Regions from separate parts of the Homo sapiens genome. Here region 1 is linked to region 2. Evidence: fine-mapped expression QTL. Tissue or cell type: prefrontal cortex. Region 2 holds a variant in brackets; the other region holds the start of a gene. All regions are shown on one strand. Distances are between the middles of the regions.

The links. PIP is the estimated chance that this variant, and not a neighbour inherited with it, causes the effect.
Region 1: MPP3 starts here. The variant in region 2 is fine-mapped to the expression of MPP3 in prefrontal cortex (GTEx, PIP 0.99).

Annotation. Positions count from the first base shown.
Region 1 is chr17:43,828,832-43,835,194 of GRCh38, forward strand. It overlaps MPP3 (MAGUK p55 scaffold protein 3), which reads right to left and starts at 4,315. Exons shown (of 20, transcript NM_001932.6): 1 at 4,270-4,315; 2 at 3,930-3,988; 3 at 3,051-3,112; 4 at 2,728-2,846; 5 at 2,413-2,490; 6 at 1,196-1,276; 7 at 823-960. The coding sequence starts at 3,075. It overlaps LOC107984979 (a long non-coding RNA gene), which reads left to right and starts at 4,874. Exons shown (of 3, transcript XR_001753057.2): 1 at 4,874-5,158. RefSeq lists silencers at 4,275-4,324, 4,345-4,444.
Region 2 is chr17:43,737,465-43,745,699 of GRCh38, forward strand. No RefSeq gene overlaps it. Among named protein-coding and RNA genes, the nearest start is that of SOST, 17 kb to the right of the region's middle. RefSeq lists a silencer at 6,500-6,659. The variant T/C (reference allele first, on the strand shown) is at 4,169.

The DNA.
Region 1 (6,363 bases), 90 kb after region 2:
AGCACCCAATACAGAGCCTGGATAGGAGGGCTCACAATGTGTTTGCTAAATCAATGGATGGCCACTCCATTTTACAAGTGAGGAAACAGAGGCAGAGGAGAGATCCTCGTCTGTTTGCAGAAGAGGCTCGTCGGAGGTCATTTGGGGAAAGTTGGAAATAGAGAATGCCAGCTGTGGGATCCTCTGGAGCCAATCTCAATTCTCTGGGCTTCCACCACTTCTGAGCATCTCATAAACAACGCTGTCCCTTTGCTCGGTAAATCAATGCTGAACCAGGACCAAAGTGATAGCAGTCTGTCTGCTGGGGAGAGGAATGCCCTGTGCTTCCTCAACATTCAGAGCAGGCATTGTCACACGTTTTCTATAAGGGGCCACATGTAAATATTTGAGGCCAGCCACACAGTCTCTGTCACAACGACTCAACTCTGCCATCGCACTATAAAGGCAGCCACAGCCAATCTGTAAGTGAATGGGCCTGGTTGTGCTCCAAAAAAGCTTTATTTTAAAAAATAAGCTGTGGGCTGGTTTTGGCCCTTGGGCTGTAGTTTGTCCATTTCTGGCTTAAAGCATGATCAGGGTCACCCTGTACAATTGTGCAGGTTATTAACTACACAAAGGGTGTTGGCCACAGTTGAGAGGGGCTGTATCCACCTAGAGAAAGGGGTGCCCTGCACACAGAGGCACCACAGGGATGAGCAGCAGCGCAGGCAAAGCTGCCGTCACTCACTCTGAAGACTTCGGGGAGGATCTTGTCCAGTGTTCTGGGTGGGGGTGAGAGGCAGGGGAAGAGTGGGTTAGAGAGGGGCAGGCAGCAGCACCTACCAGGGGTTCCTTGTTCTTCACCAAGCGGACGATCTTCACCGATTCCTCATCAAAATCCTCATCGATATTGTCAGGCAGAGGCGGGAGAACGGGGTCAAAATTCTTCTGGGCAACCGTGTCATGTACCATGAGCACAGCCTGCCGGGAAAGCCAGAGAAAAGGAAGGCTGGCCCGCCGCTCACAGGGTCAGCAGGCCGCAGCTGGCCGGTGGTATGGAGGGTGGCAGACGCCATGCCAGAGAGACAACTGCCCAGACACTAGTGCTGAGGATCGCTCCCTCAGTCTCCACTCCTCAGCCTCATTAGGAGAGCTCCCTCCGCCCCCATCCCAGGAGACCCAGAGGCATGGCTGGGCAGGGGCTCTGTGTGACTACCCTCAGGTGCGGGGTGGACAGCAGCTGGAGCAGCTCCCTCTCATCACTGTGCACGGAGGCGGCCTGCAACTCCTCCATCACCTGCAGAGAATGAGACAGGCGCCACTGATGGCTAGAGGTGCCCCTGCCCCATATCTGCTGGGTCCTTCCTCTTTGGAAGGGCCCACCCAGCTGCAGCCCCCAGGGGCACACCAGACCCTCAACCACCCGACGACGATGATCCTGGGAACATCACACCAGGGGTCAGGAGCAGCTCTATGGGGCCATCCTCCAAGGAGCCACCGTTTTAAGCCCTACGTGCTTTCTGCTTTATGTGGATCTTCTCACTGAACCCTCGCAACCAACTTGATGCAGAGGGTCTTGTTACTTTGCCATTTTACAGATGAGAATCCTGAGACTCAAAGAGATTAAACATTTTGCCCGAAGTCACAGAGCTCATATACAGCACAGCTAGGATTTGAACCTGGGCTTATCTGGCTCTCAGATGCTATTTTATGAATGAGGAAATGGGAGCTCAGAGAGGTTGAGTGGCCTACTTAACATCACAGAGCTGGTGGGACAGGCAGCGCTGAGCCTGGGAGCCAGGCAATCTAATGTGCCCCTAATCACATTCCACAGTGGAGAAGGGCCCAGGGCTCTGCACCCACAAGCTGCACTCATCCCTCCCCAGGCCATCTCCTGGGGTTAGGTGAGTTTATTCAGGAACTGATCTTAGTAATCAACCAGAATGGGTTTTCCCCAACCACGCAACATAGACGACTAGGTCCACAAGAAATTAAGAAGCGTTCCTTTAAAAAATGAGAAGCCTGAGCCAGTATGCGGGGACACACTGTAGGTCCCTTGACTTCAGGAAAGCACAGACATAATGTCTTATTGACCTATTCAAATCACCAGTCCTCAGGGCAGTTTGGGAACTGCTGAGCCAATCCAATGCTCTCATTTACAGCAGAGGAAGCAGACTTGCTAAAGAACACACAGTAAGTGGGCAGCTCCATGTCACAGTGTCTCCCAGCCCAGTCCAAGGCTCACGGGTTCCTCCCTACCTTTCGGGGAACCCAGAGAGAGGAAGAGAAGGAGGAGGACAAGGGAAGAAAACACCTCTTCACCTTTGGGCTCCTGATTCCCGGTGTCCCCACACTAAGCAAGCGAGGCAAGATGAAGGAGCCCTACAGGGTGGGGAGTGGGGCAGACACTGTAAGGAGAAACCTGGGGCTTACGTCCTCAGCGAGGGCCACAGCGCTGTGCAGAACTGGGGTTGGACTTTGCCTTTCATAATAGCGAAGCTTCTCATGAATCTGCAAAGACAGAGTATTTCAGATGCACCCTGGACACCACACATCCCACCCACGGCTGTGGGGACATTTGGGGCAGCAGACTGGGCCACTGACAGGGCACCATAAGAGAAAGTCCTGTGTAGTGGGCAAGTGAAGGCCTTCCTGGGGCAGGGAGATGACTAGGATGACCTCAGACGGCCACAGACAGCTAGAAAGACCTCTAGACACCCTTCCACGCAGGATGACGTGGGACTTCACCTTCATTAAGTAACTGAGGCTTTTTTCACTGAAAACATCCCTCAGGAAGCCCATCTCCTCCTTGTGGTTGGAGTCAGGTCTGAGCTGGGAGGTCAGCAGGGCCAGGGTTTCATGCAAACCTGGGGAGAGGTGAGAAAAACAAAGGATAGCAAACGCAGTGGGTGCTCCCTGCCCCCGAGGAGCCCGAGTGGGGCCTCAAACAGCACTTCAGTCCTGCCGTGAGGACATTCTCTCCCCAGGCTCTCACTGCCAGGGCCTGGAGGCTGCCAGGCAGGCTCTTGTCTTCAGGACTGTGGCAGGTCCAGCCGGGGGGAGGTACTTACCAGAGTCCTCCGATAGCACTGGCATGCTGGCGTTGTCACCTCCCGACCTCTCCCTGCAGATTCTGGGAGAAGGGGGTGGAGGTGGGTATTGAAGCTCCATCAAGCATATTTATTGAACAAACTGACTACACATCTACTGTGTTCTCTGAGACCAGGCTGTGGACAGAGAGGATGGGAACAAATAACTCTGCTTACTTTTTTCAGAGAGGAAGGAAATAAAGCTAAGATGTGCTGAGTGTCCTCGATGTGCCAAGCATTGTGTGGGGTGATTTCTATGATAAACTTTTTGTCTGCACAAAGTCCTGAGAAATGACTGCGAATGTTCCCATTTTATTGATGAAGAAACAGCGGCGTGGAAGCTTTCAGTAAGCTGTGGGTCAAAATCCATATTCAAGCAGGCTCTTCCAGGCTGGCCTTGGAGGTGCCAAGTGACCCTGCCTGACAGTGTCAGCTGTCCTCCGCAGCGCGCCCCCTCCACTGCAACCTTCTAAGAGCCCTGGCTCAAGTCTCCTGCTGGGACACACCTTCCACAACTACCTGGCTGGGCCTACAAGCCCCCTGTCCCCGACCCCCCAAGACCCAACCCAAAGGGAGCCTCCAGACTGGAGTGCAGAGAGGAGGGGGGGAAATGGGAGTCGGGCTTCCACTATGCAGGAGGGGGGACCCCTATCTCATGAGGCCCTCCAAAGGTGCTCTGCAGCACGTGGACCTCAAAAAGTCCTCCTTAGGAAGAGGAGAAGGAGAGTCATGACTGATTCATTCCGCAAACATGGAGCCAGCCCGCAGCGCCGAGCCCCGGTGCCACTAAGAGGCGTAAGAGCGGCCCCGGGCCCTCCAGCCTCCGCCCCGCCCCGCCCCGCCACGCCACGCCGGACTCACCCTCGGGCTGCTCCCCGCAGGAGGCCGAGCACCGACTCCCGCTCGCTCTCCGAAGGAACCTGTGGGAGAACAAGGAGCGCACTGGGCGCAGGAGCAGCGACCCCGGGGGACCTCGGAGGGCGGTCCCGGAGGACGCGGAGCAGCAGGGAGCGGGGGGCGCGCGGCGGGGCGGGCGCGGGAAGAGGGAGGCGGGGGCCGAGGGGCGGGGTTGAGACTCCCGCGGTGGGCTCGGTGGGCCGCGAGGCTGTCCGGGAGCACGGGAGGAGGGTCTCGGCCCGGCCTCCCGCCCCTCCCGCCGCGGCGCCCAGCTCCCTCGTCCGTTCCCCTCGCGGCCTCCTACCTCGTCGCGCCGGGATGTGTGCTCCGCGAACGGGAGCCGCGCGAGTGCCCAGAGCCTGGGCCGCCGCTGGCTCCGCCTTCCCGGACCCCTCCCTGCGGCTGCCGCGCCGGGCGGGGGTGGCGGAGCCTGAGGAGGCGCGGCGCGGGGAGGAGGCGCGGCGCGGGGAGGAGGCGGGGGAGGAGCGGAGGCCGCCCTCCGCGTCTGGCACCGCCGCACCCTCCGGGCCGGGCTCCGCTAGCCGGCGTCGTACCCGCTCCCGCTCTCCCGCTCCCTGAGTCCCCTGCCTGTGTCCCCCCGCACCCTGGCACACAGCCAGACTTCCCTTCCGCCCGCGCAACCCACCCTCCGCGAGTGGAGGGGTGGACACCTGCTCAACAGAGAATTCGATTTTGCAAACATTTATTGAGCGCCCTCCAGGTGCCAGGCGCTGTGCCAGGGGCCGGGGCTTCAAAGACGACCAAGGCACAGATCCTGGGTTTGAAGATCTCCAGAGGTGGGGCGGGGGGCCGGTCGGATGCGAGGGCAACTCGCTGTAACAATGCAACGCGCTGGGAAAGATTTATCGGTGCACGCTGCCCTGGGGACGCGGAGCAGGGGAGGAGAAGTCAGGCTGGAGAGGAGGGGGACTCCATTCTGCCCGGCTGCAGGGGAGTGAGGCTACATAGCAGAGGCGAGCAGCATCCAGGGGCTTTACTGGAAAAAGAGCTCTGAAATGGCCATGACGATAACTGACTTATATTGTGCTGTCTCCATGCCCAGGTACTCCTCAGATCACTTCCCTTCACAGTAGTTCCTGATATCAAGACCATTCTTATTTTGGTTCTGCAATTGAGGAAACTGAGGTTCCTGGTGAAAGAATGTGTATAGGGGAGAGCATAGGAACTGCTGGGTGAGTGAGCAGGTGGTTGTGGGTATTAAAAGGTGAGGAGTGGGTGAGTGAGTGGGCCCCCTTCCCTCAATCCCAGCAGCAAAGAACGGCACAGCACATGTCAGGAGAGGTGGACCCAGAGGTTAAGTCTGGAAGTAAATCTAGCCCTGCACAGTAACCAGGGAAAATGGGTTGGCAGGCCCCACAGGCTGTAGTGCATGGGGAGGCTGTGAGAGGCAGCAAATGTCATGATGATGTTTCCCCTCATTCCTCAAAAATTATCCTCATTCCTCAAGAAATATCTACACTATTGCTCCTCAAAATGTAACGTGCCTGAGACTCACTAGGGGGTTGTGTAATGCTGGAGTGGTGCCAGATTCTGAATTTCTGACAAGCTCCCAGGTGATGTGACGCCACTGGTCTGCAGACCACACTTTTTGAGTGGAGAGAGACTGCATGAGACACATTCTTAGCTGCAATGTTTACTGTTGGAAAAATAATGAGAACCATCTGATCCATCTGATATGGGTCAAATGATTTTGGACAAGAACACCAGGAAGTGGTGTTGGAACAAGTAGATATTTATGTGCCTGAAGGGACCCAATCCCTACCTCACACCATATTCAAAACGCAATTTAAGAGAGATCATTGGCCTAAACATAAAGCAAATCGATAAAGCTACTAGAATAAAACAGGAGGGTATCTTTTAAATCTTGGGGTATGCAAAGATTTCCTAGAAAGGATACAAAAAAGCCAGGCATGGTGGCATGAGCCTGTATCCCACATACTCAGGAGGCTGAGGCAGGCAAATTGCTTGAGCCCAAGAGTTCAAGGCTGCAGTGAACTATGATCAGTCCACTGCGCTTCAGCTTGGGTGACAAAGAGACACCGTTTCTAAAAAAAGAAAAAATTTTTAAAAAAAGCATGGACCCTGAAAACAATTGATAAATGGACCTCATCAAAATTTAAAACTCCTGCTCATCAAAAAACACTATTGGCCAGGTGCAGTGGCTCATGCCTGTAATCCCAGCACTTTGGGAAGCCAAGGTGGGTGGATCATCTGAGGTCAGGATATTGAGACCATCCTGGCTAACACAGTGAAACCCCATCTCTACTAAAAATACAAAAAATTAGCCAGGCATGGTGGCACACACCTGTGTCCGTTCCAGCTACTCAGGAGGCTGAGGCAGGAGAATTGCTTGAACCCGGGAGGCAGAGGTTGCAGT
Region 2 (8,235 bases):
GGCTTCTTTACTTAGCATGCTTTCAAGGTTCATCCATGTCGTGGGATATATTAGTGCTTCATTTCACTTCTGATGGCAGGGTCCTGAATTAAGTCCTGCCCTGAGGATCACACTGTTACATCTAGGCCTTGTAGGATTCCTGAGAATTGCATCCCATCTGCCCTGCTCTAAAATCTACACAGCCTTTGCCATATCCATTTATCGATTTGGCTCAGCAACATCTACTAATGATGCTTAAATCCTGGGCAAGTGTATTTGAAGTGGCCCCAGAGGTTAAAGATCTGGATGTTCTCCCTCCAGCAACAGCACCACTGCCCCACAGCCTGGGGATTTTCTGTTCTGCTTGCTATTAATCACTTACTTATTGCATACTTATATGTGCCAAAAATGGGATCCTCTCTTGCCCTATTGTAAAGTGATACCCATCTTCTAGAAACCAATCCAGCAATATATGAGAAGAGCCATAGAAATGTGCCCCCTTGGGGAAAAGAAATAATCCTAAGTAGAGAAAAATGTATTTGAGCAAAGTCATTCATGGCCACATTCTGCCCTTCCGTGGCCAGAAATGGATAAAAGCTGAATCTACTGCCAGCAAGTATCACCTCCACTCATTCATGATGCAGAGCGTCCCCACCCTTCCCACTGGGTTGCCTTCCAGAAAACAGCTTCCATGATGCCCAGTAATCTCTGTTTCCCTTGATCTCTCTCATCTCCTTCCTTGTCTAACCTTCTTCTCTTAGAAAAGGAGCTTCATCCCCTTTGGTCAGTAGCCAGCAAATCTGGATTGCTCCCTGTGGCCCTTGTGCTCAAGGCAAATAGAACCACCTGCTCCACATCCTCCCATCTTCTGAGTGGAGGGGCCTTGAGATAATCCACTTCTCTGCTTAGAGTGGATTCTTGATGTATCACTCTAATGATTTATGAGGTTAAAAGGCTCCCTCCTCAGTAGGGGTGAGCTTAAAATGTTCCCTCCTCAGTAAGGATGAGCATAGAGAGGGAAAAGGAGCTGACAGAACCAGAGAATCCCATCCACCACATTTACGATAGTGAAAACATTAGAAGCCATCCAATGTTCCAAACACCTCTGGTACCAGCCAAGGGGGCTGACCCAAGGCAGGATCCCAGGAGCTAGGGTTGAGTGGGTGGGGGAGGCACTCCAGGCAACAAGGCATCAGATCTGAGGACAGGTGCCAGGCTCAGCCTGACAAGGTAGGCCAAGGGACAGTTCTAGAGAAGCAGCCAGGATAACCTGTTTTATTTTGTTTTTAATTGGGTGCAGACACAAGGGGAGTATGGAAAGCCATTGGCTCAGGTCTCAATGGGTCTCAAATTTAGACTTCTGCTATTTTTTTCTTCAAGTGCAATTGCATATTTAGTCTCAGAGAGTGACTCTGACAAGACCCAAAGAGAACATTTGTCATTTGGCCTTGACCTTGTCTCCACATCTGGAGAGTTGGTATCACGTGTGGTACCTTATTTGTACATTTCTTGGGGGTTCATAACAATGTTATACCACATTACTGGTGAAAGGAATATTAATTTGTTCAGTGTAAACACTGAAATAGCTGACAATCTTTTATTTTTAATTTTAATCTATTTATTTGTTTTGAGACTGGGTTAAGAGATTGGCTAATATTTGTATTTTGGGTAGAGGTGGGATTTTACCATGTTGCCAAGGTTGGTCCTGAACTCTTGGGCTCAAGAAATCCACCCCCCTTGGCCTCCCAAAGTGCTGGGATTACAGGTGTGAGCCACCACACCCAGCCTAAAATAGCTGACAATCTTTATAACCCTCTTTAGGCATATTTACATTTTATAGTATATTAGGAACCTCAAAAACTGATGGCAATTCAGGTTTTTCCAGTATTCAAGAAGGCATTATCTAAGCTGTCAGATCTAGGGGGGTGGTGAGTGTGATACATAAATTGGGAGGTAAATCAAAAAGTCTGGAGCAGGCAGAAGAATGCAGGAAGAGGTCAGGGAGTGAAGGACTGGATTGAGAGGGCCAAGATTTGGGGTTTGAACAGGGCTGACTTCAGGGAGCGGGAGTCTGGCCCCAGGTAAAACTTAGTGTCATTGTGTGGGTCAGAAGACAACAAAGGATCCTTAAGGAAACTATGGCCCATCATCTCAGTAGACCAGGCAGCCTTTGGGAATGATGGTCACAAAGACTCTGTGGCAACATAGAAAATGCTAATGGTGTCATACAGAATACAGAACTTTATGGACCTATGGTACAAACAAACACATGCATGTGCCTGCACACACACACACACACACACACACACACATACACAGAGGAAACAAGACTGGAAGGGGATACACCTAAATATAAGTAGTGCTTGTGTCCATGGGGTGGAGTGATATTGTGGGTTTATTTGCTCTGTATTTTTAAATAAAACAATGGCTCAACTCAGAAGATAACTGAGTCAGCGTCTCATCCAGCAGCCCCCGGGGCCCCTGGGAGAAGCCACCTCCCACCACCTGGCCAAGAAGATCTAGACAGGCTGAGAGGCTCCCTCTCCCTCTCCTGGGGTCCCGAGCCACAAATCTAAAGCCACATTCCTTGGGTGACCAGGCAGGGACTGGGGGCAGATGTCGAAACTGGCAAGGCCCCACTCTGTGGTACCCAGCCTGCTGTGGCTCCTGTCCTAGTGCCAGCTCCTCTGCTGTCATCCTGTCCCCACCCCACACATCCCCACCTCCCCAGCCAGTTGGGCCCAAGGTGCCCTCACTGATATGTTGGAGGAATAATCTGCTTCTCTCCAGCTCCTCAGGAGACCCGCGTGGGAGGTCCTGCGTCACGGGCTACTGAGGCACATGCTGAGTCCCCTCCCATGGGCCTCAGCACACCTACTATGGCTTAGCTCTTCCCACCCAGGACCTCCTCAGGGCTTCTCGGCATTCCAGAAAGACAAGAAGATTTTCTTGGGGCCAAGGCGTTGCTGGGCCTCTCTGTCCCGGCCAGGCCCTCGGCAAGCTCCATGCCTCGACTCTACTGCCTTCTCTCTGGTCCTCTCTGTCACCCTTCAGAGACTTTTAAATCCCATAGTCTGGGCTTCAGGGCCTCCAATAAAAGCAGAATAAGACCTATAAGGACTTAATAGAGCTTTTATCTATAAAAGAGACAGACCTTCTAATCTAACTAGAAACTAAGGTTAAAAAAAATGAAAAGAGTTAGACTTAAACTCTTAAAAAAATAAAAAAAGATTCAGCTCTGTCAGAGTCAGCCTGATGTGGTAGACAAATTGCTCATGAATTACTCACAGTGTTTGCTAAAAAATGCTGGTTCCTGGGAGTCTCTGAGCCTACTCTGGCTCTAGAGGCTGCCCAATTTAAAAAAAAGAAAAATGCAGGTTCCTGAGTCTAGCTCCAGAACTACCAAATCAAAATCTCGGGGAGGTGAGGACTGGGAATCTGAATGTGTAACACGTTCCCTACGTGATTCTGAAGCACACTGCACCGGTGGTTTAGTGGTTTCCATGCCAGGAGGGCATTGCGCCCTCCTTGAGAACCCTGCCTTCCCAGCACTAGCTGCTGGGAGGCTGGCCAGCACAGACACAGTCCTCCTTCCCAAGAGATTCCTAGCCCTGGCGAGGAGGAAGACTCGGTGGGTAACAGGAGTTGCAATGTGGGTTTGTACCCAGTTCTTGGGGAGCACAGAGGAGAGGGGAGTTCTCAGAGAGGGAAGATGTCTCAGGGAATGAGTCTCTGGGGCCAGATCCTGAGGGCTCAGTAGCATTGACTAGCTAAAGAAGAGAGCAGAGGTATCCCAAATTGAGGACATAGCATGGGCAGAGGCACAATGGGGAGCTGTAAACAGTTTAGGGCCTGGGCACAGGTAGGGAGTAGAGGGGAGGAGGCCAGAGAGATGAGTGGGGCTGGTCTTCCTGCTGGTTTGTGTTTTGTCCATTTGGCTAATCTGGGAATAATACTTCCCAGAAACCCCTTCTCCAGAGGGGTCTAGGGTAGAGTTGGTCAAAAGAGGAGCTTGCATGAGATTTGGAAAATAAAAGTGAAGCAGCATCCTGACTCTCAGGGGGTTGTCACGGTCATGTGCCGTGATGACACTGAGGCAGAGATATGCCTGGCCAATCCACCTCTCGGGCTGCTGGCTCCCTGTCTGGCCCGTGTTCTGGCCAGCTGGGCTTGCTGAGCTACAGCTGCC[T/C]GCAGACCTGTCCACCGGCTCCCTTCACGGCCTCACTCAGGCAGCTGATGTGCTTGCTTCTTGGGCTTCCCTGCAAACTCTGACTTGTCACCCGTATTAGGCCATTCTTGCATTGCTATAAAGAAATATCTGAGACCAGGTGCGGTGGCTCATGCCTCTGATCCCAGCAGTTTGGGAGCCCAAGGCAGGAGGATCACTTAAGCCTAGGAAGAGGAAGTTGCAGTGAGCCAAGATTGCACCACTACACTCCAGCCTGGGCAACAGAGGAAAACTCTGTCTCAAAATTAAAAAATTTAAAAGAAGGAAGGAAGGAAGGCTGACTGACCTGAGTCTGGGTAATTTATAAAGAAAAGAGGTTTAATTGGCTTGTGGTCCTGCAGGCGGTACAGGAAGCATGGTGCTGGGCATCTGCTGGGTTTCTGGGGAGGCCTCAGGAAGCTTCCAATCATGTCAAAAGGTGAAGGGGGAAGCCAGCACCTCACATGGAGAGGGGGAGCAAGGGAGATAATGGGGGAGAGGAGGGAAGTGCTACACGCCTTTTTTTTTCTTAGACAGGGTCTTACTCTGTCACCCAGGCTGGGGTGCAGTGGTGCAACCACAGCTCACTGCAGCCTCAAACTCCCAGGCTCAGGTGATCCTCCCACCTCAGTCTGCCTAGTAGCTGGGACTACAGGTGCACACCACCATTCCTGGCTAATTTTTTTTTTTTTGTATTTTTTGCCATGTTGACCAGGCTGGTCTTGAACTCCTGGGCTAAAGTGATCCACCTGACTCAGCCTCCTAAAGTATTGGAATTACAAGCATGAGCCACCATGCCCAGCCAGGAGTCCCTTTTTGTTCTTTTTTTAAATTTTATTTTAGACAGAGTTTCACTCTTGTTGCCCCGGCTGGAGGGTAGTGGAGCGATCTCGGCTCACCGCAACCTCTGCCTCCTGGGTTCAAGCAATTCTCCTGCCTCAGCCTCCCGAGTAGCTGGGATTACAGGCATGTGCCACCATGCCCGGCTAATTTTGTATTTTTATTAGAGACAGGGTTTCTCCATGTTGGTCAGGCTGGTCTCGAATTCCTGACCTCAGGTGATCCACCTGCCTCGGCCTCCCAAACTGCTTGGATTACAGGCATGAGCCACCATGCCTGGCAGGAGTCCCTTTTTAAGAGCAGGAAAAATATTTTCCATAAGCAACTCCTCCAACACACACACACACACACACACACACACACACACACACACACACTCAGAGTCCCTCCATGGCTCATCGGGGTAGACCTTTTAATATCCAGGGCTGGAGAAGGACAATCCCTTCACACTTGAACGCTGTGAAGTCTGTGCCCTTGTCCAGGGCACCTGCCAGGAGGAGTAGGCAGTGGGTCCGGTCTTTCAGTGGAGGGCTTCTGCAGCTTCAGATCGTCTCTAGGAGTCTGGAGGTCTATCTTATGGCTTGTATTTCTGGAACCGAGTCATGCCTGCTTGAAGATAAGAAGATCAAACAACAGGATGCTGTGGCTTCTCCTATCCCAGGGGCCTCGAGGACAAATCAGTTCCCTTCCTGGGGGAGCAGATCCTCCTGGCTGGGATCTTCAGTCCAAGTTGGTTCAATTTATATCCTTCACGTCTGGCTTCTCCTGCATGTCCAAGTCACAGGAATTTTAAGTCAGGATCTTCTCTGCACCCCTGAGCATGACAGCCAGCCTCTGCCCTCATGAAGCTCCCAGTCTAAGGGAAGAAATAATAAATTGGTGGCCGGGCATAGTGGCTCATGCCTATAATCCCAGCACTTTGGGAGGCCAAGGTGGGCAGATCACTTGAGGTCGGGAGTTCGAGACCAGCCTGGACAACATGGTGAAACCCCATCTCTACTAACAATACAAAAATTAGCCAGGCGTGGTGGCATGTGCCTGTAGTCCCAGCTACTCAGGAGGCTGAGGCAGGAGAATCGCTGGAACCTGGGAGGCAGAGGTTGCAGTGAGCCAAGATCATGCCACTGCCCTCCAGCCTGGGTGACAGAGCAAGACTCTGAGATTATTATCTCAAAATAATAATAATAATAAAATAATAATAATAAATTGGCAGTTAGAGGGCACTTCGCCAAGGCAATATGAGGGAAACTACAATCTGTCAGGAAAACACAGGGGAAGGCCCTAACTGGCCCAGGAGGTTCAGCGGGGCATCCAGGAGGATGTATGAGAGCCGAGGAGGGAGTAGAAGGTGATGTAGGAAAACCACTTAGCTGAAAGACTCGCTGCCCAAAGGCCGGAGGTGGGAGAGAGTGCGGGACTTGCAGGAACTAAGAGGAGCCCAGAGAGGCATCTGAGAAGAGAAGGGCTTGGAGAGCTGGGAGCATCAGATCGGGTTTAGCCTGGGGGCCTGGCTGAGGTGAGTGCTCTCCATCCTAAGGCCACAGGAAGCAGAGGAGGGACAGGATCAGATTCTGCGCCCAGAGGAAGACTGGCTTAGAGGAGGTGAGTCCAGAGGCCAGGAGAATATCAGAGGCCAGGACAAGGGAGACGGCGGCCAAACCAGGGAAGTGGCACTGGAGAGAAATGGATGGATTCAAGAGACGTTAGGCAAATGGACAGAAAACAGAAACCGCGCACGTGGTGGTTGGTGAGTTGAATGCATGCAGGAGATAGGGGCCCAAGGGAGAACCATAGGGGGTTGATTCCAAGGGTCTGGTGGAGCCCCTGAGGGGTTGGAGACACCCAGCTGGTCAGCCACACAGTCTGGTATTAAATGACACACGGCTGGTCAGCCACACAGAAGCTGGGCCAGTGTGAATGGGTCCGGTACCGACTTCAGAGTGTGCACCTCTGTCTCCCCAGACAGCAACAGAAGGACCAGGGAAATTTAAAAGGGAGTCTATGATGATATTGTAATATAAAATCTCTAATGAAGATGTGACTACTAGAAAAAAGGGAAATAAAGCGATTGAGGAAAGGAAAACAACTTGTGCATAAAGAAGAAAAGAATAAGCAACTGAAAGCTCAAAACATTTTTCCAGGCCTGGGGGATGAGGTGGAGAGAGTCTCTTGCTCCCACTCCAGGAGGAGGGCTGCCTGGAACTAAAGTTGGTGCTTATGATCTGGTATTTAAATGACATTCTTAGTGGTGGTGTTAGCGGTAGCAGAGCAATTGTGCCAGGGCCCACCGACCCCTTGCTGGTTCACTCAGTTGCCAACATATACTGATATACTGAGCACCTGCTGCAGGCCAGGCTCTGTGATCTCAGATCTCAAGAACAAGCCAGCTCAGTCCCTGTCTAATAGAGCTTACAACTGGGCAGCGGAGGCAGACCTGCCATGAGACAAATATAAAATGACAACTTGTGACAAGGGTTAGGAAAAAGAATAGTGGAATCCTGTTTTAGATGGGATGGTCAGGGAAGGCCTCTGAGGAGGTGATATTTGAGCCGACATCAGATGGATGGCAGAGAATGCAAGAAGAGTGTCCCTGGCAGAGGGAACAGCATCGTCATAATTGGGAGCTGGTGCTTTCGAGGAACTAACAGACAGGCAGGGTGGGTGGAGGGTGGGAGCCAGGGCTGGGCTGGGGGTTGTGAGGACACTGACAAGAGACCAGTTGGAGAGGGGGCGGGGGCTGACCATGCAGGAATTGGAATCTTTCAGTAAAGTCCAGACCAAATGATTCTTCAGGGTCCTTGTTCCCCCAGGTTTCAATGACACTTTAAAGGTGTTGTCGTAAAAGGCTGGGGAGTCTGTTTCTATGCCCCCAATCTCATTTAAGAAGGGGGGCATCCAGGCCATCATGGAACAGGTGACCTGGAAGATGTTCCTTGGTCCAGTTTCTGCAAACTGCCCCGCAGCATTTTTAGAAAATGTTCCCTTTTAGATTCGATTTATCTTAGCCAAATTGACCAGGGAAAATAGGTGCCTACAAATAGCGATCACTGGCAAACAAGGAGAGTTATTATCTTAAATTAAGGCTGGTTTCTAACAACAAAAAAAAACCCACCAAATGCCACTGGCCACCCCCCACCAACCCCGATCCCCAGCGCATACGTGAGGACGATGGCTCCACCACCCTCCCTGTAAGTACCAGGCTCAATGCC